4 linked regions of the Homo sapiens genome follow. The protein of the gene in region 4 interacts with the protein of the main gene of each other region in a pairwise test. Each region holds a gene or a part of one and is shown on either strand. Other genes may lie near its edges.

Region 1 (4,838 bases), on a different chromosome or scaffold from region 4:
GCACAAGAATGGCTTGAACCTGGGAGGCAGAGGTGGCAGTGAGCTGGGATCATGCCACTACACTCCAGCCTGTGCGACAGAGTGAGACTGTCTCAAAAAAAGGGAAATGCAAATATAAGCTTTCATCTCCCCTTCACTAGACATTCCCTACAGGGCAAGTTCATCTCTCTGCTCCAAAATAGTCCTCCAGAATTGACTGCCAATTTGCAGACCAAAACATGCCCTCCTTGAGCTTTCACCTCCAGGGGTTGCCTTGGAACTCCCACCCTCCAGGGGCTGCCTCAGGACTTTCATTCACTAGGAGGTTATATCTAAAGTATGCCTACTTGGCCACTTTTAAAATTTATTTTTGCCCAGGAAGGCCCGACTCAACTGTCCAGTAGATAAGGCACCATGCTATCAGGCGGACCCTTGCTCACTTGCTCCCTTACCTTATAAAAGTGCCTGCTTTCTGCTCCAAAGGGGAAGCGGCACATTGAAAGGCAGGACGTTGTGTGCCCCTCCTCCAAGCTAGCTTTGGAATACATTCACTTTATTGGTATCAGACTTTACTCTTGTCCGTGGGACTTTGCATACATTGAGCAACTAACCCGCATTTCAGTTACATTCATGTCACACTTTGGTCATGATTTAGCTCTTTGGTACCAGGGGCAAGCTTTGCTTGGTCAGTAGCATAGGGTGTTGCTGTGTTTATTGGATGGATTCCATGGCCCAGACTGAGTAATGTCGGGGCAAGGAACAACAGGACAAGTGCTCTAGAAATTCTTGTCTGTGGGGCTGACATGACATGTCTCTGCTTTCCCTATTAAATGTTTCCTGGGCTGAGGCATGAGATCTCCCAGGCCCCTGAAGCCTGGAAGGGGTCAGAAAGCCAAGGCAGCAAGGCTAGAGGGCACTGCCAGGGAAAGTGACCCACATCTGTCCCCTCAAACATCAGTTCCTCTTTCCAGGGAGATGGGAGCTGTGCAAACATGGAATTCCCACACCTCACAGGTCTCTCCTGGGTGGAGACTTCAAGATGGAGAGAGGGAAGAGAGGCAGCATATGTAGAAGGGCAGGAAAGTGGCATGTGTGTCCAGTGGCAGTGAAGAAAGGGGATAACAGACATCTCCCTTTCCTATAAAATAAAAAGACAGGAACTTCACCTACCTCTGCTATTTCCTTCCCATTTCTCCTTCAGCTTGAAGAAAGGTGTGGAGTTGAGAAATGGTCCCTAACCTGCACTCGGCACTCAAGGGTTTTCTCCAGAGCAGGTGAGACCTCTTTGCCTGGCCTTTGTCTGCCCTTCATTTCATGTGAAAGAGAAATGTGTATTTGCAGAAGGAAGCCCAGGGGCTTAGGGAACATCTTCACTCCAGAGGAGCAGGGAGCGGTGGCTCCACCAGCTGTGCCTGGGTTGGTCACTGAGCCTAGACAAACTCCAGCCCACTGGGAAGCTGGTTGTGGATGCTGGCCATTGGGTGGCCCCAGTGAGCCCTTTCCAGCCAAAGATTTCACCAGGAACTCCAAGTAAGAACCCAGCCCTTCTCCCTCAGCCTCCATTGAATGATGCTCTGTGGCCAGGCAGGTACCAAAGAATAAATGTACTGTATTAACATGAAGACTAATGACAAATGCACTGCAGTAGTAAGCACGTCATAGATGCATAGAATATTCTCTATATAGTCTGAATATGGATATAAAATAAGTTATACTCATTTTGTTTTCCATCACAGTAGGAGCATAGCATACAAAGTGATTGGTTCAGTGGCCATGAAGCAAGCCAGGGGAGAGACCACAGAAGAGAATGTAGGGCATTGAGTACAGTGGGGATTTGCCAAGGACACTGCAGAGTCCCTGGGGACCCTCTGGGGAACAAGGCCCCAAACCTCTCAAGTTAGCCTTCTGAGAATAGTATGAGGTCCCACTTGACAAGAGACAGTGGCTGCATCTGAGCTGGGATGATTCAGGCAACTGGGTGGGAGGCAGAGCAGGGACAGGCACGAACAGCATCCAGCAGGCTAGCCCACTCTCCTGCTGGTGCTGTTGGATGTCTATGATGCTGGGAATATGGGGCGCAGAGCCAGAAGGCACGGTTTGCTTCTGTGACGTGACAGATGGCCAGACTGATGGGCCACCAAATGCTGGCCGGCCCTCCTCCCTTGCCAGCCTGTCCTGGGAGGCTGCAGGGGGCCTGCATACTTTGCTTGTTCTCCATAGTTTGTCATTGGGTATCAATGCTGGGATCCTGCATACATCATAGCACAGACAAGTGTGTGAGGGTCTGAGGCCCTGGCTTTGAATCCTCTCTCCATCACGTGACTTCTGTGAGTTTCAGAAGGTCGCCTAAACCCTTCTGAGGCTACTCAGCCTCCTCAACTGCAAAATGGGAAGGCTAATGCATACTTCCCTGGGGCATCAGTGAGGGCCACATAGAATAATGTATATAAAGTGCCTAACACAGCTCCTGGTACGCAGGAGGGGCTGGGTAAATGTGAGTCAAGTATGAACATCTAAACATCATAGGCCAGGTGGAAAGAACATCTAACAAAATCTATGAACTAAAACCACCTTGACTGGTTTTCAATAGACTACAGGACAATTTCCTCACTCTTATCAATTTTTTTCTCTTCTCTCTCCCGCTCTGGGATTCTTTAAAATGAAATACTGGCAGAGTTCAAAGCAAGGTTTGCCGAAGAAGACAGAGGCTTAGATTAGGAAAGAACAGAGCTCCTGGGCCAATGTCTCTAGAAGACGCTTCCTTTCTCACCTCTCCTCCCTGCAGCTGCCCGCCTGCCCTCAGATCTCCTAGCTCTTGAATGGATTTCTTATTAGGAAGCCAAAGCAGATAGGGGAAGCACAGAAAAAGAAGTGAATTGTCTACTAAATGAAAAGTCTTTTCCATTTGCTCAGAGCCCGGGTGTGGAAGCACTGGGGAATCTGGAGGTGGGTTGGCCATCTGTGCTGGCAAGTGAATTGCCTCAGGTCTGGTATCTGGGGAGTGGCCGAGGAGAGGGGAAGAGCGATAGAGACTTAGGCTTAGACTCTGGGGCCTGGGAGTGCTCTTGTCCTTCTAATCCCGAGAACTTGGAGGTGTGCCCAAACAAGTATCAGCTGCAAACATGGGCGTCATGGTCCTCTCTCACCTACAGAGCAATGTCAAGATATGCATATGTGTGTGTGCATGTTTGTGTGTGTGTGTGTGTGTGTGTGTGTGTGTGTAGTCACCGCTCCCATCTCCTCCTCTAACACTGCCCGTCTGAATGTCCCCCCACCCCATCACTCGGCAACTTTCCTCTTGGACGGGGGCAGGAGGTGGGCAGGCAGCTCGTTGGGCAGCTCGTGCCCCTCCAGCTTGACTTTGATGAGGTGGTTGGCCAGTGCAAACTCGTCGTCGTCCAGCATGCCATCCTTGTCAATGTCGGCCAGCTTCCAGATCTTGCCCAGCACACTGTTGGGCAGCTTGGAGCGCACCATCTCCTTCTTGGCATTAGCGCCTGTGATCTTGCCATCCACCGGTGACAGGGTGTAGAAGATCTCGTCGTACATGGGCTTGTCCCTGGCCACCACCCACTCAGCATCATCGATACCTTCTCCAGCCCCCTCCCCATAGCCATGCCCAAAGGGGCCGTGCAGGGTGCCCTCGAACGCTCCGCCCTTCACCATCTGGATGGGCCGCTGTGACTCCTCCTGGCGCACTAGCACCATGAGCTGGGCAATGTCATGGGCCAGCATGTCGTCCACTACCTCCAGCAGCTTGCTCTTCAGCGGCTGGAACTTGCTAAAGTCCTGGGCCTGCAGCTGGTCCTGGGAAGAGGAGGAGAGAGGATGAAGATAGGATACGATGAAAGGAGAGCCCTCCATTTATCACGTGCCTCCTATGAGCACCAGAATGTTCACAGCTGATCCCTTTCTACAATGAAAGACCTGTGACCTAGAGGCTCAGCTGATGGACATCACGTGGTAATCGAAGGTATGAGAGAGGAGGGGAATAAAGGCCCACTGGGCTGATGATGGGATTTTTCAGTAGGGGGTAGAAGGGTTGTAGGGGCTGGGGAAGAAAGGGAAATTTAACAAGTATTGGCATGATCTATTTATTTCAATCCCCTTCAATGTCATTCCAGAGAGGAAATCATTACATTTCTCTTTAAGTCAGTTTTGGCTATTGAATCATGTCTCTTGAATGCTGTACCTCTGAGACTGGGTCATGTGGGCCTCTACTTTAATAAGGGTTATACTGTACTTGAAAATCACCGCAAGTGCCTTCACTACATTACCTCGTTCACTCCCCCAGCGCCCTTCTGAGGTAGGAAAATCACATTCTATCCCCACTTAGTGAAAACAAAAACAAAAACCAAACAGGGCACAGGGTACTAAAACCAAATCATAACAGAAGCCAAAGGTCATCCCCAAATTATGGTTCTTAATCAGGATGCTCATCGGAGTCACCTGAGGAGAGTTTTCAAAATACAGTCATGTGCTGCATTACAATGTTTCAGTCAATGAGGGACCACACGTATGACGAGGGTCCCAGAAGACAATAAGGGAGCTGGGAAATTCCTGTTGCCTGGTGACATTGTAGCTACTGTACACAACACAACGCATTATGTGTTTGTGGTGATGCTGGTGTAAACAAACCTACTGTGCTGCCAGTGGTATAAAAATCTAGCACACACATTTCCATAGAGTACATAATACCGGATAATGATAACGGCTATGTTACTGGTTTATGTAAATATTTACTATACTGTACTTTTTATTGTTATTTTAGGGTGTATTCTTTCTACTTATTTAAAAAAAATGTTAACAGTAAAACAACCTCAGGCAGGCCCTTCAGGAGGAATTCCAGAAGAAGGCAT
Region 2 (5,092 bases), on a different chromosome or scaffold from region 4:
TTAAATGATTACCGTATACCAGTGTTTTAAGCACTTTTCATGTATCATCTCATCTCATTTAATTCTTCTAATCCTATGAGGAAGGTTCTATTTTATAGATGAGAAAGCTGAGCCACAAAGAGGCTAAATAATATTCCCAAAGCCATATAAATATGACATAGGTTTGACCCTTACTGTCTGATGCTAGAGAATATTTGTCAACATACAAGTTTACACACACACACACACACACACACACACACAAAACAGGGAGGGATTGTGCTTTGGTATTTTTGCTATGATGATTTGAGGATGCCTTAATTTCCTGGCAATAATGATACTGTCACTTTCTCCTGTTTTCAAGAGAGGTGAAATTGACACTAGAATTTATTATTTGCCTTGACATACTTTAAATATCCTTCAGGTAGAAGTAATGCCTTCATTATGTTTGGTGTGAAACCAGCTCATGTCCCACCTCATAAATTCCCATAAATTAGCCTCAAAGAAATAAAACTAAATCACTCATATCCTTTCACAAAATGGATTTTTATTGTGGTCATACATGGTTTCTCAGTGCCACAGAAAATTGCTATGTAGGGACAAAAAATTTTTGGATGGCTCTGTAAAGAAACATGGTAGGTTTTCAGAAATGAGTTGTGCAGGAATGTGGTTAATGAAAAGCAGAAAGGGTTAAGGGAAGAGAAAGGAAGCCAAGGAGTGTGGTATGTACATCAAATGATTACTTTTTAAGCCCCTCTAGGCTCTGATAACCCTTTCCCCAAGTCAGATCCCAACAAAATTCATCAGTAACTGAAGTGATTGTGCTAACAGATACATAAAGACTACCGGAGAAAAGTGGGTTGAGATGGGCTCAGACTTATTGTTAGGACAACTCTGGGAGTCTTGTGTCTGTGCCAACCACGTATCCGTGGGCTACCTGGAGATGAGTTCTAACAACCAGCACAGAACCCAAAGCTGCTCTCCAACACCTTTGTTTAGTAGGGAAAACCTGTAGTGGGGACAAGAGAGGAAGCTGTGCCCTTCCCCCAACCACCGTTTCATCTTCTGCTCGCTGACCTTGATGTGACTTGAGAGCTCTCCTTGCTTCGGCTGTGCAGTCCAGAAGCCAGAACTTCCTCTAGGAAACTGATAAGTAGTTTGAGGTTACTTGAAGGAAAAAACAAAAGCATCTCCAAAAATAGAATGTCTTGCTCTGGACATCTAACCAGATGAAAATATATCATGAATAGTAGGCAGGAGGTACTGGTCTGATATTTGGGTATAGAATGGAAGCATCAGTTGAGCACTACAACATCCATACTGCAAGGACAGTCCTTCTGTGCTCTTCCCCAGGGTCTTCATTTTTTTTTTAGAATTAAATTTGTAAGATCTATTAAGACTAACATTTCAAGTTTGAAGTTTCTATTTAGGATCCCAGAATTTTTAAGGGCAAGGCCACTATATTAACTCAGTACCATGTTACATCAGCACCTGTTATCTGTACTCTTGAAACTGTCTCAGAGCTTGTATGTTGTCTATAGTTTCTTTCTTATCCAATCTACTCTCCAGAGTGGCACCAGAGTTACTTTTCTAAAATGCAGATTACAGGCAGGCGCGGTGGCTCAGGCCTGTAATGCTAGCACTTTAGAAGGCTGAGGCGGGTGGATTGCTCGAGCCCAGGAGTTTGAGACCAACCTGGGCAACAGAGCAAGACCCTGTCTCTAATAAAAAAAAAATTAAAAAATAAAACAAAATACAGATTATATCCTGTTGTATACTCTCCCTTCTTCTGCTTTAAAACCTTTCTTTTACTTATGGAAAATGTACAGTTCAAGGCCTTTCATAATGTGCCCTAATAAAGAATACTTATATTCATTTTGTTCTGAGCACCGTTTAAAGCCATGTGTGTGTATATATGCATATATGCATGCGGCCCTGTCAAACAGATGCTACTATTATCCTCATTTTAAAAAACGAAGAAACAAAGCTATAGAGGGGAGGTTAAGTGACTTGCCAAGGTCACAACAGCTAGTAAGTGGCTCAGCTGGGATTCAGATCCAGGCTCTAGATTCTGTGCCTTTCAGCATCTTGCAATACTGCTTCCCACTTGTCTGTTCCATCTCTCAGAGTGCAGCCTCTATGCCATCCATGCCCAACTACTCACTGTTCCTAAACACGTCATGAGCTTTCCTACCTCAAGTAGTTATTCTTACTATGTCCTATGTTTGACTATTCTTTCTCTGCTGAAATCTTCTTTTTTTTTTTTTGAGACGGAGTCTTGCTCTGTTGCCCAGGCTGGAGTGCAATGGCACAATCTCAGCTCACTGCAACTTCTGCCTCCCAGGTTCAAACGATTCTCCTCCCTCAGCCTCCCGATTAGGTGGGATTACAGGCATATACTACCATGCTGGCTAATTTTTGTAGTTTTAGTAGAGACGGGTTTCACCATGTTGGCCAGGCTGGTCTCAAATTCCTGGCCTCAAGTGATCTGCCTGCTTCAGCCTCCCAAAGTGCTGGGATTACAAGCGTGAGCCACTGCGCCTGGCAAGAACCTTATTCTTCAAGACTAAGGATTAAAAGTCACTTTTCTGGCCAGGCATGGTCTCATTCATACATACATACATAAATACATAATCATAAAAGTCACTTTTTCTGTAAAGCCCTTCCAGACCCCTCCATGCTGAACTAATTACTGTTATTACTTTATCCCACTCCTATCTTAGCACTGTATAATTGTTGCCAAGACAGACTGTGAGCTTCTTGGGAGGTAGGGGGAAGTCTTACTCACCTTAGATCTCCAGGGCTTAACACAGAGGTATCCAATAAAGTTATGCTGAGTAAATGAATAAAATAGCTACCCATTGGCAAGACAGCCTTCTTTATAATATAAAAGTTATTTGGATGGACGGGTGCAGTGGCTTACGCTGTAATCCCAGCACTTTGGGAGGCTGAGGCGGGTGGATCGCTTGAGCCCAGGAGTTCGAAACCAGGCAGGGGAACATAGTGAAACCCCATCTCTATAAAAAATACAAAAATTAGACAGGTGCCTGTAGTCCCAGCTACTTGGGAGGCTAAGGCAGAAGAATTGCTTGAGCCTGGAGGCAGAGGTTGCAGTGAGCCAAGATTGTGCCATTGCACTCCAACCTGGGCGACAGGAGTGAAACCCTGTCTCAACAACAACAACAGCAACAACAACAAGTTATTTGGATGCTCAGGACTCTCTCTCAGAGCAGACAGATATTTAAAAGACAGAGGACTGGAGGAATGACCAGTTATTACCATTGTTTTGCAGTTTTATTACCATCTTGCATTGAAAGATTCTGGGCTTGGAGAATTTAAATTCCAAACTCCTTTGCAAAAGAAAAAATTGCAAAGTAGAGGGAAAGGAGTAGAAGCTAAGTTCATTTGTTCCTCTATGGAAATACAGACATCTTTGGCCTGGCTTTTTGGCCAGTTGGACTAGACACAATTGGAGGTCAGAAAACAAGTGTTAGGAAATGAGGTAGCACTGATTTTTTTTTGAACAATAACACAATAAGTCTTGATGACTTCTAGAAAGAATGAAATAAATGTGCTGGGAAGCCCTATAGGAATTTTATCAGGGGATCTTTGGTTCATTTCCAACTCTGCTACAAAGGGAAGAAATAAAGATCCTCCTCTGTATATCAACAAGACCCCACATTCCTGACTATAATGAGAACACACTTACTATTTATATTTACCAGCCTAATTTTGTTTCCTAGGGCCACTATGACTTAAAAAAAAACTATTTGGGGACTCTAATGAGTCATTGCTCAGAATGCTTAAAAAATTATGGCGAATGAACATATTGCTAGCTGTACCCCAAATTTAGACTATGTTTAAAAACAAAACAAAAAGAATAATTTTTCTTTCTAAATTCATTTTAAATCAATCTCACTTAAAAGCAAACTCAAAAATCCCCTTCTCCGTTGGTGCCATAGTCCAGTTCAATTCAGTTCAATTCAATCCAATTCAACAAATGTTTAATGAGCATCCATTATGAACTAGGTGTTGAACTAGGTGTACAAATGTACACCTTAGTTATGATTCCTACCTTAAGGGACTCTCAGAGACAGATACACAATCACAATCCAATATGAGTATAAACAGAGGCAGTGCCAGAAACTAACAGAGTGGATTAATGCTACTGCTTTTTTTAGTTTGTGCTGTCATCAAGGGTGTTTTCCTGACTCCATGTATAGAAGGAAGGTGGGTGGAAAAAAGCAGAACCCCAACCCTGATTTTAAAAAGTCAACCTTGAGAAGTCTTGAGTCACACACTGAAAAGCAAGCTTCTCCACTTACATCACTGGTAAGGGACTAGAGACCAATGTTTATAGGATTAAAAATATTAATTACTAAAATAATTCAGCTGAACAACTGTGTTTCTATTCCTAAACAAAGCTATCATACTGTAACAAAAACTATGTGTGTGTATGTGTATATAATTTAAGGATATGTCTTCCTCCTTTTTCACTATACTCCACAGGTAAAAATTACATGTGAATTTCTTATACCAAAGACACCAAGGGGAATCTAGAACCTGAATAGTGTTATAATAATTAAAAAAATAGAACTTGTGGGGAGCAGAAAAATAGAAAAAGACTTTCAGGAAAATAATGAGAAAAACCCCAAGATATTTGTCTTAATGGAGTAATAAGCTCCTAATTACAGCCAAACACTTACTTGGAGAAGTTAGGAGTATGGGAGTGGGTAAGGCAGAAGGATAAGATGAAATTATTAATAGCTTAAAACACTGAAAATGCTCCTCACCTCTCAACTTCCACGGCTTGCAGTTTTCAGAGCCACTGCTATGTTTCATACTTCTTTGCTTTTGCACCTGCTATTCAAAGGCTGTCCCATCCATCTCACACTTTGTTTGGTGGAACTATGCATCTTTAAAAACCCAACTCTCACATTATTACTCCTCTAGGAAGCTTTCCTCAACTGCATTGCTTTCCCCTTAGAGTTACGTACTCATTCTTCCATATCTTGTAAATATACTGTGTTGTAATTTATTTGTCTGTATGTCCATTTTCCATGCAAGCTTATGAAGCTTTTAGGGGCACAAGGATACATGAGTACATTCTCTT
Region 3 (7,038 bases), on a different chromosome or scaffold from region 4:
TGACCTCAGGTGATCCACCCGCCTTGGCCTCCCACAGTGCTGGGATTACAGGCATGAGCCACTGCACCCAGCTGTGTATATTTTAAATATTTATATTTTACAAATATAAATATTTAAGTCTCAAATAAATAAATGAAAATAAAATAAACAGTGTTCTTAAAGAGACTACTCTTTTCTTCCCCTTCCCAACTTCCTTTTCTTTTTTTTTTTTTTTTTGAGACGGAGTCTCGCTCTTTTTGCCTAGGCCGGAGTAAAGTGGCGCTATCTTGGCTCAGTGCAAGCTCCGCCTCCCGGGTTCACACCATTCTCCTGCCTCAGCCTCCCGAGTAGCTGGGACTACAGGCGCCCACCACCACACCCAGCTAATTTTTTGTATTTTTAGTAGAGACGGGGTTTCACCGTGTTAGCCAGGATGGTCTTGATCTGCTGACCTCGTGATCCGCCCGCCTCGGCCTCCCAAAGTGCTGGGATTACAGGCGTGAGCCACCATGCCTGGCCCCCTTCCCAACTTCTTGCTGGCTGGAACGCAGACACAATGGCTGGAGCCTTCACAGCCCTTTTGTACCATGAAGTTCCTTGGGCCTGGAGGCCAGGCATGGAAGAGAAATAAGACAGAAGGGGACTAGATCCCTGGCTCTGTAAAGCACCAAACCAGTCCTGGATCACTTTCTGGGACTTTTTATGGAGGAAAGAAAGAAAAACTCTCTATCTTAATTTAGCCACTGTTATTTTGGGTTTTCTCTTCACTCCCCTAGCCTGACTCATAAAACCATGCTCCCACGGAACTATTTGAGGGAGGCGCTTTCCAGAACCTGCCATCCATCCCTCTGGCTTTTGAGGTCCCATCTCAGAGCTTCCAGAAACCAACCTTCCCATCACCCACCCCCAACATTCCCTCCTGGGCAGCTTCCCACCTGCATTTTCTGGCAATCAGGAAAGTCCCCAGGGGAGATGTGATGTTCCAGCTGAATCTTCGCAAAGATGACGGGCAGTTTGAGGATCAGCTGCTTCTTCTTGTTCTCCTTCCCAAACACAGAGGGCATCTCCTTCTTCAGGTAGCTGATGATGTAAGCGTGAACCTGTGGGAAGGGTTCTCACCTCAGCCTGCATCAGGGTCCACCAGGGAGCTTGTTAAAACACAGGCTGCAGGCCCCACTCCCAGAGATTCTGATTTACTTGGTCTGGGCTGGGGCATGAGAATTTGTATTTCTTTTATTTCTTTTTCTCTCTCTCTCTCTCTTTTTTTTTCTTTGAGACGGAGTCTCGCTCTGTCACCGAGGCTGGAGTGCAGTAGCACAATCTCGGCTCACTGCAACCTCCGCCTCCCGGCTTCAAGCAATTCTCCTGTCTCAGGCTCCTGAGTAGCTGGGATTACAGGCATGCGCCACTATGCCCAGCTAATTTTTGTATTTTTAGTAAAGATGGGGTTTCACCATGCTGGTCAGGCTGGTCTCAAACTCCTGACCTCGTGATCTGCCCACCTTGGCCTCCCAAAGTGCTGGGATTACAGGTGTGAGCCACCGTGCCCAGTCTTTTTTTTTTTCGAGACAGAGTCTCGCTCTGTTGCCCAGGCTGGAGTGCAGTGGTGCAATCAGCTCGCTGCAACCTCCAACTCCTGGGTTCAAGCAATTCTTCTGCCTCAGCCTCCCAAGTAGTTGGGATTAACAGGCATGCGCCACCACACCCGGCTAATTTTTTTGTATTTTTAATAGAAACGGGGTTTCTCCATGTTGGCCAGGCTGGTCTTGAACTCCTAATCTCAGGTGATCCACCCGCCGTGGCCTCCCAAAGTGCTGGGATTACAGGCATGAGCCACCGCGCCTGGCCTGCTTTTTTTTCTTTTTTTTTTGGAGACAGGGTCTCGCTCTATCACCCAGCCAGGAGTGCAGTGGTGCGATCATAACTTACTGCAGCCTCAAATTCCTGGGCTCAAGGGATCCTCCCGCCTCAGCCTCTCAAGTAGCTGGGATTACAGGCAAGAGCCACTGCCCAGATGGGAATTTGCATTTCTGACAAGTTACAGGTGCTGCAGGCGGAGGTGCCACACTGTGAGCCTCATGGCCTCCTCCTGCTGGGGCTCACCCTGGGCTCCTCCTCTCTGCTAACTAAGTGAGCTGAGTCCCTCCCAGTTTTAAACACCCCTCCAAGAGGTCCACTCCCGAATCTGCATACCAGCCTAAGCCTCTCCCTCCAGCTCAGGACTCAGAGCTAATTGCCCTGTCAACATTCCTGGATAGCTCCATACCAGGATGCCCTAAGTGGAATTTGAGCCTAGCCCTCAGAGCTGTGTCGCCCTCAGCTGTGCCCATCTCTGAAAAGGGCATCCCCAGCCCTGCCTTCCCAGTTGAGGCCAGAAATCTAGAAATTTTATTTTTATTTATTTATTTATTTTGAGACGGAGTCTCACTCACTCTGTCACCCAGGCTGGAGGACAGTGGCGCAACCTTGTCTCACTGCAACCTCCACCTCCGGGTTCAAGCAATCCTCCTGCCCTGGCCTCCCGAGTAGCTGGGATTACAGGCACGTGCCACCATGCCTGGTCAATTTTTGTATGTTTAGTAGAGACTGGCTTTCACCATGTTGGCCAGACTGGTCTCGAACCCCTGACCTCAAGAGATCCACCCGCCTCGGCCTCCCAAAGTGCTGGGATGACAGGCGGGAGCCACCCCGTCCGGCTCTAGAAATCACTTTTTTTTTCTTTTTGAAAGGGAGTCTCACTCTGTTGCCCAGGGTGGAGTGCAATGGCATGATCTTGGCTCACTGCAACCTCCACTTCCTGGGTTCAAGCAATCCTCCTGCCTCTACCTCTCGAGTAGCTGGGATTACAGGTGCCCGCCACCACTAATTTTTGTATTTTTAGTAGAGAGGGGTTTTCACCATGTTGGCCAGGCTGGTCTCAAACTCCTGACCTCAAATGATCTGCCTGCCTCAGCCTCCCAAAGTGCTGGATTACAGGCGGGAGCCACGGTACCCAGCTCTTGAAATCATTATTGATTTGATATTTGATTCTTCCTCCTGTTAAGTAGCCACATCCAACCTATCAATGAGTCCCTTTTGCCTCCTCCTATGTCTCTCCCTCTCTCCCCTACTTTCCTTTTCTTTTTTGCTTTTTTTAGACAGGGTCTGGCTCTGTCCCCCAGGCTGGAGTGCAGTGGCACAATCTCGGCTCAGTGCAACCTCCACCTTCCCAGCTCAATCCATCCTCCCACCTCAGCCTCCTGAGTAGCTGGGACTACAGGCACCCGCTACTACGCCCAGCCTCTCCCCTGCTTCTCATTTCTCTCCACCTCAGTGGCCACCATGTCCATTCGAGCGTCATCCTCTCTTGCCTGGGGAGACACCCAAGGTGGCCCGACAGGTCTCCCAGCTCCCCATCCTGCCCCAATAACCCTTGCTCCATGCAGCAGTGGCCCAAGAGGGCATTTTTCAGGAAGGAACATGAGCCCAGGGGATGCTGCTCATAACTCTCTATTTGCTTATTGAAGTTCAAAATTTCTACCGAAGCCGACAAAGCCCTACAGCAGCAATTCACGAAGTGTGGTCCAGGGAAACCCAGGGGTCCTCAAGATCCTTTCGGGGGTTCCTGTGGTCAAAATTATTTTAAGAACAATACTAAGACGTTATTCGCTTTTTGCTTTCTTCACTCTTTTTTTCTCCCAAATGGACAGTGGATTTTTTTTTTTTTTTTTTTTTTTTGAGACAGAGTCTTGCTCTGTCACCCAGACTGGAGTGCAGTGGTGCAAATAATGACTTTATTTATTTATTTATTTATTTATTTTTTGAGACAGAGTCTCACTCTGCCGCCCAGGCTGGAGTGCAGTGGCTCAATCTCGGCTCACTGCAAGCTCCACCTCCCGGGTTCACGCCATTCTCCTGCCTCAGCCTCCCAAGTAGCTGGGACTACAGGCGCCCGCCACCATGATAATTTTTGTATTTTTAGTAGAGACTGGGTTCCACCATGTTGGCCAGGATGGTCTCGATCTCTTGACCTTGTGATCCGCCCGCCTCAGTCTTCCAAAGTGCTGAGATTATAGGCATGAACCACCGCGCCTGGCCTAATGTCTTGATTTATTAATCTTCTCTTCTCAAGAGGCTGAGATGGGAGGATCACTGAAGCCGGGGAGGTCAAGGCTACAGTGAGCCATGATCATACCACTGCACTCCAGCCTGGGTGACAGAGCAAGACACTGTCTCAAAAAAAAAAAAAGGAGCCCCAGAAGGGCTGGAAACTTGTCTGTTCCCTCCATCTCCAGCACCAGTACAATCTGTACAGAAAACACTCAGGAAATATTTGTGGAATAAACCAATGAACTTGAGAACCTTTGAAACACAATCTTTTTATTTTTTATTTTTTATTTTTTTTTTGAGATGGGGTTTCACTCTGTTGCCCAGGCTGGAGTGCAGTGGTGCGATCTTGTCTCACTGCAACCTCTGCCTCCTGGGTTCAAGCGATTCTCCTGCCTCAGCCTCCTGAGTAGCTGGGATCACAGGCATGCACCACCATGCCCAGCTAATTTTATATTTTTAGTAGAGATGGGATTTCTCCATGTTGGTCAGGCTGGTCTTGAACTCCTGATCTCAGATGATCCGCCCACATTGGTCCCCCAAAGTGCTGGGATTACAGGTGTGAGCCACCACACCTGGTCCACAATCTTATAAATTATCGAAAAATAAACAAGGAGAGCAGAATAATGAATATTGGTATGTCTATATTTTATAGGAAGCTCACAAATTAAATATTGCTCATGCCTATAATCCCAGCACTTTGGGAAGCCAAGGGGGGAGGATCACTTGAGGCCAGAAGTTCGAGACCAGCCTGGGCAACATAGCAAGACTTGGTCTCTAAAAAAAAATTTTAAAACTAGTTGGGTGTACTGGCGCGCGCCTATAGTCCCAGTGAATTGCCGGGGCTGAGGAGGGAGGATCACTTGAGCCCAGAGGTTTGAGACTGAAGTGAGCTATGATGTCGCCACTGCACTCCAGTCTGGGCGACACAGCGAGCCTTTGTCTCTAAAAAAATGAATAAATAGGCCAGGCGCGGTGGCTCACGCCTGTAATCCCAGCACTTTGGGAGGCTGAAGCGGGTCGATCACCTGAGGTCAGGAGTTAGAGACCAGCCTGGACAACATGGTGAAATGCTATCTCTACTAAAAATACAAAAATTAGCCGGGCTGATGGTGCCCACCTATAATCCAAGCTACATGGGAAGCTGAGGCAGGAGAATCACTTGAACCTGGGAGGTGGAGGTTGCAGTGAGCTGAGACCGTGCCATTGCACCAGCCTGGGCGACAGAGTGAGACTCAGTCTCAAAACAAAATAATAATAAATAAATGCTTTTACAAAATGCAGTATATTGGCCGGGCGTGATTACAGTATATCACGCCTGTAATCCCAGCACTTTGGGAGGCAGAGGCAGGCGGATCATGAGGTCAGGAGATCGAGACCATCCTGGCTAACACAGTGAAACCCCGCCTCTACTAAAAATACAAAAAATTAGCCAGGCGTGGTGGCAGGCACCTGTAGTCCCAGCTACTCGGGAGGCTGAGGCAGGAGAATGGCGTGAACCCGGGAGGCGGAGCTTGCAGTGAGCCGAGATCATGCCACTGCACTCCAGCCTAGGCGACAGAGCGAGACTCCGTCTCAAAAAAAAAAAAAAAAAAAATGCAGTATATCTGGAAAGACACACAAGAAACTACTTATGGGGGTTGCCTCTAGAAAAGAGGCCCTGGGAGCTGGTGGGGTGAGGTGTGGGAGAATCATGTCTGATAAAGTATGAATGCCTTTCCATGAGATGGTCTTAAATGTTCAATAAAAAAGACTAGTTAAAAAATTCTTTTAGGCCAGGCACAGTGGCTCATGCCTGTAATCCCAACACTTCGGGAGGCCGAGGCCAGCGGATCACCTGAGGTCAGGAGTTCGAGACCAGCCTGGCCAACATGGTGAGAACCCATCTCTACTAAAAATACAAAAATTAGCCAGGTGTGGTGGCACCTGCCTGGAGTCCCAGCTACTCGGAAAGCTGAGGCACAAGAATCACTTTAACCTGGGAGGCAGAGGTTGCAGTGAGCCGAGATCATGCCACTGCTCTCCAGCCTGGGTGATAGAGAGAGACTCCATCTAAAAAAAAAAAAATTATATATATATGTATATATATATATATATATATATTTTTTTTTTTTTAAAGAATCACAAATTTAGACTGCTGAGAACGTTGGTGGTCCCTGACTGGTTCTAAATCTTCATCTCTTCCACCTTCCACCACCACCCTGTCTCCAGCCCCGTTAGGCTCTCAGTTCAAACACATCAAGTGCATGGCTGCCCCAGGGCCTTTGCACATGCTGTTCTCACTGCATGGACTGCTCTTCCACCCGATCGCCACTCGGCTCACCCCTTCCTCTTACCCCTTCCTCTCCTTCAGAGCGCTCTAAAATAGTCCCTCGCCAGCCCCTCTTTCCTCCGCTTCATTTTTCTTCATAACCATTGATTTGTTTAATGTTTGCTTCCCCACTAAAAAGTAATTCTATGAGAAAAGGAATTTATCTGTGTTCCCTGCTGTATCCCCAGAGCCTAGAGGAGTACCACATGCGATCGGCAACTGCTGAATGAATGTCACTGGGCCACTGCAGAGAATGTGGTCTGAAGGTTCAGGGCATCTTGGCGTCTATAGAATCAGACCCTCCCAAGATCTTGGCCTTACGTATCACAGCATCATAAAATCTCCCCTTCTAACAGCTATCACTTCAGCCAAAGGACTTAGAGCCAGAGGATTCGTCCACACCCTCCATCGTACAGATGGGAAACTGAGGCACTGGGAGGAGGGTGAATGCCTCCTCCCAGAGAGTCCAGGAAGGCCTGGTATCTTTGGAGGAGAGCATGAGGGGAGGTTAACAGTATGGCTATTGTTGGTGACGACCAAGTGTGGCGGACTCATATGTGAGGAGCAGGGGTGGGGGTGCGACACGGGGCAAAGGAGGGGCAGTGAGCCTTGGTCACAGCGGACCCTAAATCCCATGCTCCTGTGTCCTGAACGGCACTGGG
Region 4 (7,038 bases):
TTTTCAAAAATAAAATATAATGAATAAGTTAGGGCATCAGATTTTCTCAATCTTAGATTCACAGGCCGTATACTTTTCTTAAACCTCTAAGGTCTGTTCCCCTCATCTACACTGGAATCTCACGCAGCGTTAAATACACATATAATTTTCTGTTTAATATTGCATATACCGATATGTTCTACAAGGAACTTCCTAATGTCTTGGTCCTCTGCAACTCCTGCCATAGGGAGAACTGTCAATCTCTGTGGTATTCTAGCCATGAGAGAATCAGCAGAAGCTCTGAAAGAAAAATAGGCCCTGGGGAGAAAAACAATTATTCTAGTTCCCATAGATGAAAGTGAGGCTGAAACACAACAGAAGAAATATGCACATTTGAGAGAGAGGTTCTGATTCACTACAACCGCACACAACCTGGGAGCCCATGGCAGCCTCTGTGCTTGAGAGCCACAGGAGGAAGCAGGCCCCATATCCCTGGCTTCACTCACTTGTCTCTCCACGGCCCTCTTCCTCTCCATTTCCTCCTTCCTTTTCTTTTTCAGTTCCTCAAACTGTTCTTTGGTTGGCAGTGACATCAAACCAAGCAACTTTTCCTGCAGGGAGTGACAGACAATTTTACACTTAAACCCTTTTAGAGAAAAAATGAACCTTAAGCCCCATGATGAGAGTCTGCTTAAGCTGAGCCACTCTGTTCTCAGAGAGTGACATCATTTGACAGCAGCTAGAAAGGAGAGAACTCATATTGGGTGAGACAGTCAACTCCAAATGGGCCTGCATTTTCCTTATGAAATGATCAACATCAGATATCCCAGTTATTCACCTGGCTCAGATGTTAGCTTCTCTATGAGGTCTTGTCCCTGCCCATCCTATTAACTTAGCAAACCTCAATCCCAGCCCTCTCTCCCACACTTCCCTGCTGTAAGTTTCTCCAGAGCACTTTTGCTATCTTACATACTAGATATTTTAGTTGTTTATGATCTCTCTCCTTCTCTAGAACATAAGCTTAATGAGAACAGGAACGTTGGTCTTTTTTGTTCACTATAGGACATCCAGCACCTAAAACACTACCTGGTACATAGGAGGCACTCAACAAATGATTGCTGAATAGAGTCACTAATCAAAGTGAGGAAGGGCCTACTTCTCTATACTACAGAGTTAGAAAACTAACCTGACAGGACTCTGTCTATTAGATCTCTTTGTTGGCTGGGTGCAGTGGCTCACGCCTATAATCCCAGCACTTTGGGAGGCCAAGGTGGGCAGACTGCTTGAGCTCAAAAGTTTGAGACCAGCCTGCGCAACATGGTAAGACCCTGTCTCTATTTAATAAAAGAAAAAAAAAACACTTTGTTTTAATTTAAAAAAAAAGAAAAAAACAGATCTCTTTATCAGGGAGCCCCAAGAGTGGTTAACTGTGACTCTCTCAGAAGGGGCCTTCAGGGATAGAAAGACACAATTCAGATCTAACCACTTAGGTTAGTCTGCCCTTAATCGGCTGTTTCCTCCCAGCTGATGGCTCAAGAAGAGTCTCTTAGGAGATTATCCTAAGGAAGAAATACTAAGTACCATTATTACTATCATGGCAACACTTAACAGCAGCAAAAAATTAGTCTATCAAATGTCCAACTAAAGGAAAACGGTTAAAGAATGGCATATACAGTCAATATGCAGTATCGTAACTACTGTATATAAAAAATACAAATGGGAAAAAAGAAAACATACCAGAATAATGAGTGATTGTAATGGGGACATAGGATTAAAAGTAGTTTTAGTTTTCTCTGAAATCCAGATTTTTCTCTAAGTGTGGCATCATGCATTCATAATTTCAAAAAATAATAAATGTATAAATAGGAAGTAAACAAGTCATTGGCATGGATCTGCCTCCTGGGAAGCAAAAGAGCAGGACAGGCCAAGTGCAACATTTATGCCAACCCAGGATGGCTTTACCTGCACAAAAAGTGTAGCTGAGTATCTGATCATTCTCTGCAGCCGCAAATTGCTTGGATGTGGTGGAGGGTCCTGGTTCAAGCCCAAGGTTAAGATCTTCTTACTGAATTGGAACAAACACATGAATATAATGAGCACTGCCAGCTTCAGAAACAAGGGTGAAAAGTATAACATCTGGAGTTGCCAGGCTTTCATGCCAGGAAGGTGTGTAAAGATGGACAAGTGACTCCATTGAAGTTTCTTTGAAGGCAAAGCCCATTTCTTACCCTTTGGCTGTACACAGGCCTTAGCAAAGGGCGCACAACACTGTTATGGAGTGACTGACTACACATGCAGAGCCAGCTTCACAGGTGAGCAACCTATGCAACTGGAAAGGACTGGCACTTAAAAGAGCCCTGTGCTTGGTTTAATGCTCTGCTGTTAGTGTCTTTATTCTTAATAACTTTTGAACAGGGGACATGCATTTTCATTTTGTACCAGGCCCTGCAACTACGAACTCCTGCTGTATGTCTGGATGGACAAAGGCACCTCATCTTATTCTCCCTCTGAGTCACTGGCTAATTTAACCCCAATGGCCAGTCCACAGTTAAAAAGCAGCTGTGGACTTGAGCACAGACACAAAGAAAGAACCTGAGTTTCTATCTTCACTCCACAATTTTTGCTATCTGTGACATGATTCCTCACCTTTGACACAGGATGTTAATCCCTACCTCACAGGGTAACTTCAGTAGAATAAATGAGCTATTCTAGAGAAAACAGCCAGTGACTGGCAGGTGATAGGTGTCAATAACCAGCTCCTCTTTCTTTAATAATAGCAAACATTAGAAATCCTTAACGAAACAAAAGTCACTGAGATGCATTAAGTGCCAGAGCTGGCCCCTTCCTTGCCCTCCTCCTCACCCACTGCCCCATCACCAGAAGTCTGAGTGAGTGCAGGTCTGCTTTCGCCATTTCATTAGAACAGCATCTTCTCCATTCCACCAGCGGGCAGGATACCACTTAATGGACCTTACCTTAAAGCGTCTATCAGCTCATACACTTTCTGCACTTCCACTCGAAGGTCACTGGCATGTTCCAGACTGTAGGTTGTCTCCCCAGCACTAAGGAGAAACCAGAGACACGTGACCTAAGTTTCATGGTGCAGATTGGACAGCATAGTGTAGAAGGACGCTAAAGGTGTAAGGCCTCACAAAGGCAGTTAATTCTCTAAAGGTGGCATTTCAGACTTTCAGATATAATGCAGTGTCCATCTCTTGGAATGAATGAATCAAGTGGAAGTGATGTTTCGATTTGCAGACGCAACAGGGACAGATTCATGCCAAGGCCTCCAAGGACTAGCCCTTATGCTCATCACCAAAACAAATGCGGCTGAATTTACTCTGGCCTACTTTTCCTAAACAATTCCACTATATCTAACAAGATGTAAGAAGTGGTTACACTACATTAAGAGCAGAAAGCTACTTGGCTTTTCTCGCTCAAAAGTACCCAAGGAGGTTCGAGACCAGCCTGGCCAACATGATGAAACCCCATCTCTACTGAAAATACAAAAATTAGCCAGGCATCGTGGTGGGTGCCTGTAATCCCAGCTACTCAGGAGGCTGAGGCAGAAGAATTGCTTGAACTGGGAGGCGGAGGTTGCAGTGGGCTAAGGTCGCACCACTGCATTCCAGCCTAGGCGACAGAGCAAAACTCGGTCTCAAAAAAAAAAAAAAAAATACATATATATATATATATATATATATATATATATATATATATATATACATGGTTTTGTTTTAAATATATATATACACATGGTTTTGTTTTTAAAAAAGGCACATCTACTACTACATGCATCGCTTTAAATGTGGCAGATAGGCAACACAGGTTTAAGACAAAGACAGAAAACTCTGAAATTAATAACACTAGATACCATAATTAATTCTTTTCCTACAGGTTGGGAAAACACTGCTGGGATCTGACTCTAGTAGTTAGCACTTTAACTTCTAGGTTACAAACACTAAGCTTCAGAAAAAGCAACGATCTTAAGCAGGGATCAGCAAATTTTTTCCATAAGGAGCCGAATCATAAATGTTTTCAGCTTTGCAGGCCACACAGTCTCTGTTGCTGCTATTCAACTCTGTCATGGTGGTGCAAAAGCAGCCACAAACAGTAATCAAACATGGGCATGGCTGTGTTCCAATAAAACTTTATGCAAACAGGTGGCAATAACTAGTGTTGGTAAGGCTATAAAGAAAGTGAAACCCTCATACACTGCTGGTGGGAATGCAAAATAGTGCAGTCATTCCACAAAACGATTTAGCAATTCCTCTATGGAATGTTACTCTATGGTAATATATAGTTACCATAAAACCCAGCAATTCCACTCCTAGGTACCTACCCGAGAGAAATGAAAACATGTCTACACAAAAAACATAAAAACTTGTACTCAAATATTACAGAAGCATTATTTATAACAGCCAAAAGTGGAAAAAACCCAAATGTTCATCAACTGATGGATAAACAAAATGTGACAAGTATCCATGCAATGCATTCATACAGATGGAATGAAGTACTGATACATGCAACAACATGGATGAATCTGAAAAACAGTACACTGTGTGAAAGAAGCCAGACAAGAGAGATTTTATATTTATGATTCTATTTATATGACATGTCAAAAGCAGACAAATCCATAGAGACAGGAAATAGATTAGTGGTGTCCAGGGAGATGGGGAAAGGGCAGTGGCTGCTAATGGGTATGGGGTTTCCTACTGGGGTGATAAAAATGTTTACAATGAAGACAGTGGTAATGTTCGCTAATTTTGTGAATACGCTAAAAACCACCAAACTGTACACTTTAAAAGGGTAAAGGTTAGGGTGTGTGAACTACATCTCAATTTTAAAAAAGAAGCAGATGTTGGCCAGACACGGTGGCTCACGCCTGTAATCCCAGCACTTTGGGAAGCCAAGGCGGGTGGATCACGAGGTCAAGAGATCAAGACCATCCTGGCCAACATGGTGAAACCCCGTCTCTACTAAAAATATAAAAAAATTAGCTGAGCGTGGTGGTGCGTGCCTGTAGTCCCAGCTACTTGGGAGGCTGAGGCAGGAGAATTGCTTGAACCTGGGAGGTGGAGGTCACAGTGAGCCGAGATCACGCCACTGCACTCCAGCCTGGCAACAGAGTGAGACTCCGTCTCGGAAAAAAAAAAAAAAAAAGCAGATGTCAGGATACATTTGGCCCACGGGCTGCAGTCTGCCAGCCCCTGCTCTAATGGTCATGCCTGCTTTAAGCCCTGACACCTCAATGTGACACTCAAGTGGCATCTACCCAGACATGAGCATGAGACCCACTGCCCTTCCTCTGCTCTGTCCAGATGCTGCACTCAGCAGCAGTACCTATTGTCTGAGGCCCTTCCCAAACCTGCTCAGTCAGAATAGCCAAGGTCAACTGAATGTGGCTGTCTTTCTACAAGCTCATGTGATGGTAGCCTGTACCCCACTAAAAGACAGACATGAAGATGATTCTCTTCATAATAGCCAAAAGTGGAAAAAAACCAACTTCAGCTGGTCTCAGAAAAAAAGCACGGTTGAAGTTAAGATTTTCATTTTTGGCTACTGGAGAATTGACCTAAAATGCCAGAAAACAGTCACCACTGGATTAGAAAAACATAGATGAATAGCTTACTTTAATGATGCTGCCATCCTGATGTATTCTGGAGCTTTCTGGTCAACTTTCTCCATGCAAAGTCGTAATTTCTAAGAACAAAAACAAAGAGGTAAGTGGTATGCTCAAGATATAGAAACACCTACCCAGAAGCTAGGCTCCATCAATGGAGCTATATTTAAAATGTTCACTTTTCTAACACATTAATTGTTGTTATCAATTTCCTGATTTATAGGCATACTTTCCAAGCAGAAAATTTTGTAGGAAGGAAAGAAAGTGAGAATGGAGCTTCTGATCAGATGTTTCGTTTTGTTTTTTTTTGAGAAGGAATTTTGTTCTGTCACCCAAGGTGGAGTACAATGGCGCGATCTCCACTCACTGCAACCTCTGCCTCCTGGGCTCAAGCGATTCTCATGCCTCGGCGTCCTGAGTAGCTGGAATTACAGGCACGCTGCCACCACGCCCGGCTAATTTTTATATTTTTAGTAGAGACGAGGTTTTGCCATGTTGGCCAGGCTGGTCTCGAACTCCTGGCCTCAAATGATCTGCCTGCCCCGGCCTCCCAAAGTGCCCGGCGAGATGTTTTTGAGAGGAGCAAGGCTTCCAGGGCACAAGCCAAGGTGTCTACCAAGACAAAAAGGAATTAGCTGCTACTTTCTTTCTCTGCCAAGTGATGCCAGGCAACAATGGGAAACCAGCACAAGGCATTGCCAGGGCTTACTTCAAAAGAGGAGGTGGCACAAGCACCGTGGGTATTCACAGAAATGAGATACCAGGTCGTGAACTCCACACAAAGGATGGAGAATGCTACATCTGCAACCCAACATGGGGCTTAATTGACACCATTTCTAGTAGCCTGAGTATTTACATAGGGATTCCAGAAACAGTGCCATTATGACCTGCAGAACTACTAACAATGACTATTCAGTGGTCATTAGGCAAAATTACACTCTTCCTCTGTTCAGAATGTTGCACAAGCTGCTTCCTCTGCCTGGGCTGATCTCTTCCCTGCATCTCTTACTGCCTCCCCACCCAGTCCACCTGGCTAGTCTTCCTCAGCTCACAGGTCTCACCTGGCCATTAAGGGACCAAGCCAGTCTCACTCCCAGATATTCTTTGCACACTATTTCCTCTCAGAGTATGCATCTAGTAGGGGGGCTGTGGGATCACTCAAGTAACGACAGCTGAGGCATTTGGACAAACTTAGAAGGGGACACTCAGTAAACTGGTGAAGCCTGAAAACTTGTAGAACTTTCTAAAACTTGTAAAGTCTAACACTCCCAAGTGAGTTTCCCAGGATTCTTCTGGCCCACTGTTTATGAACATCTCTAGCTTCTGCCCTTCCCACAGAACCTGTCTACACCACATGGCAACTGCCCTTCCTCCTATTGCCTCTGGGCCACCAAAGCTTCCACCCACCTGCTTTCAAGTGGCCAAGGAAGGCCACT

Evidence for each region.
Region 1: the proteins of RBSN (region 4) and EHD3 interact in binary tests that used the Homo sapiens proteins (3 or more experiments, as listed by UniProt).
Region 2: the proteins of RBSN (region 4) and VPS45 interact in binary tests that used the Homo sapiens proteins (3 or more experiments, as listed by UniProt).
Region 3: the proteins of RBSN (region 4) and EHD2 interact in a two-hybrid assay, tested with the Homo sapiens proteins (one study listed by BioGRID and IntAct).

What each region holds. Positions count from the first base shown.
Region 1 is NC_000002.12:31,265,125-31,269,962, reverse strand, and holds the end of EHD3 (EH domain-containing protein 3), read right to left. Parts: exon of another isoform or gene 4,023-4,838; intron 3,787-4,022; coding exon 3,259-3,786; 3' UTR 512-3,258; downstream 1-511. UniProt on the Homo sapiens protein: ATP- and membrane-binding protein that controls membrane reorganization/tubulation upon ATP hydrolysis. In vitro causes tubulation of endocytic membranes. Binding to phosphatidic acid induces its membrane tubulation activity.
Region 2 is NC_000001.11:150,140,742-150,145,833, reverse strand, and holds the end of VPS45 (vacuolar protein sorting-associated protein 45), read right to left. Parts: intron 2,997-5,092; coding exon of another isoform or gene 2,903-2,996; intron 1,126-2,902; coding exon 1,038-1,125; coding exon of another isoform or gene 913-1,037; 3' UTR 505-912; downstream 1-504. UniProt on the Homo sapiens protein: May play a role in vesicle-mediated protein trafficking from the Golgi stack through the trans-Golgi network.
Region 3 is NC_000019.10:47,730,410-47,737,447, reverse strand, and holds part of EHD2 (EH domain-containing protein 2), read right to left. Parts: intron 1,080-7,038; coding exon 915-1,079; intron 1-914. UniProt on the Homo sapiens protein: ATP- and membrane-binding protein that controls membrane reorganization/tubulation upon ATP hydrolysis. Plays a role in membrane trafficking between the plasma membrane and endosomes. Important for the internalization of GLUT4.
Region 4 is NC_000003.12:15,075,121-15,082,158, forward strand, and holds part of RBSN (rabenosyn-5), read right to left. Parts: intron 5,683-7,038; coding exon 5,612-5,682; intron 3,042-5,611; coding exon 2,955-3,041; intron 2,045-2,954; coding exon 1,942-2,044; intron 591-1,941; coding exon 486-590; intron 1-485. UniProt on the Homo sapiens protein: Rab4/Rab5 effector protein acting in early endocytic membrane fusion and membrane trafficking of recycling endosomes. Required for endosome fusion either homotypically or with clathrin coated vesicles.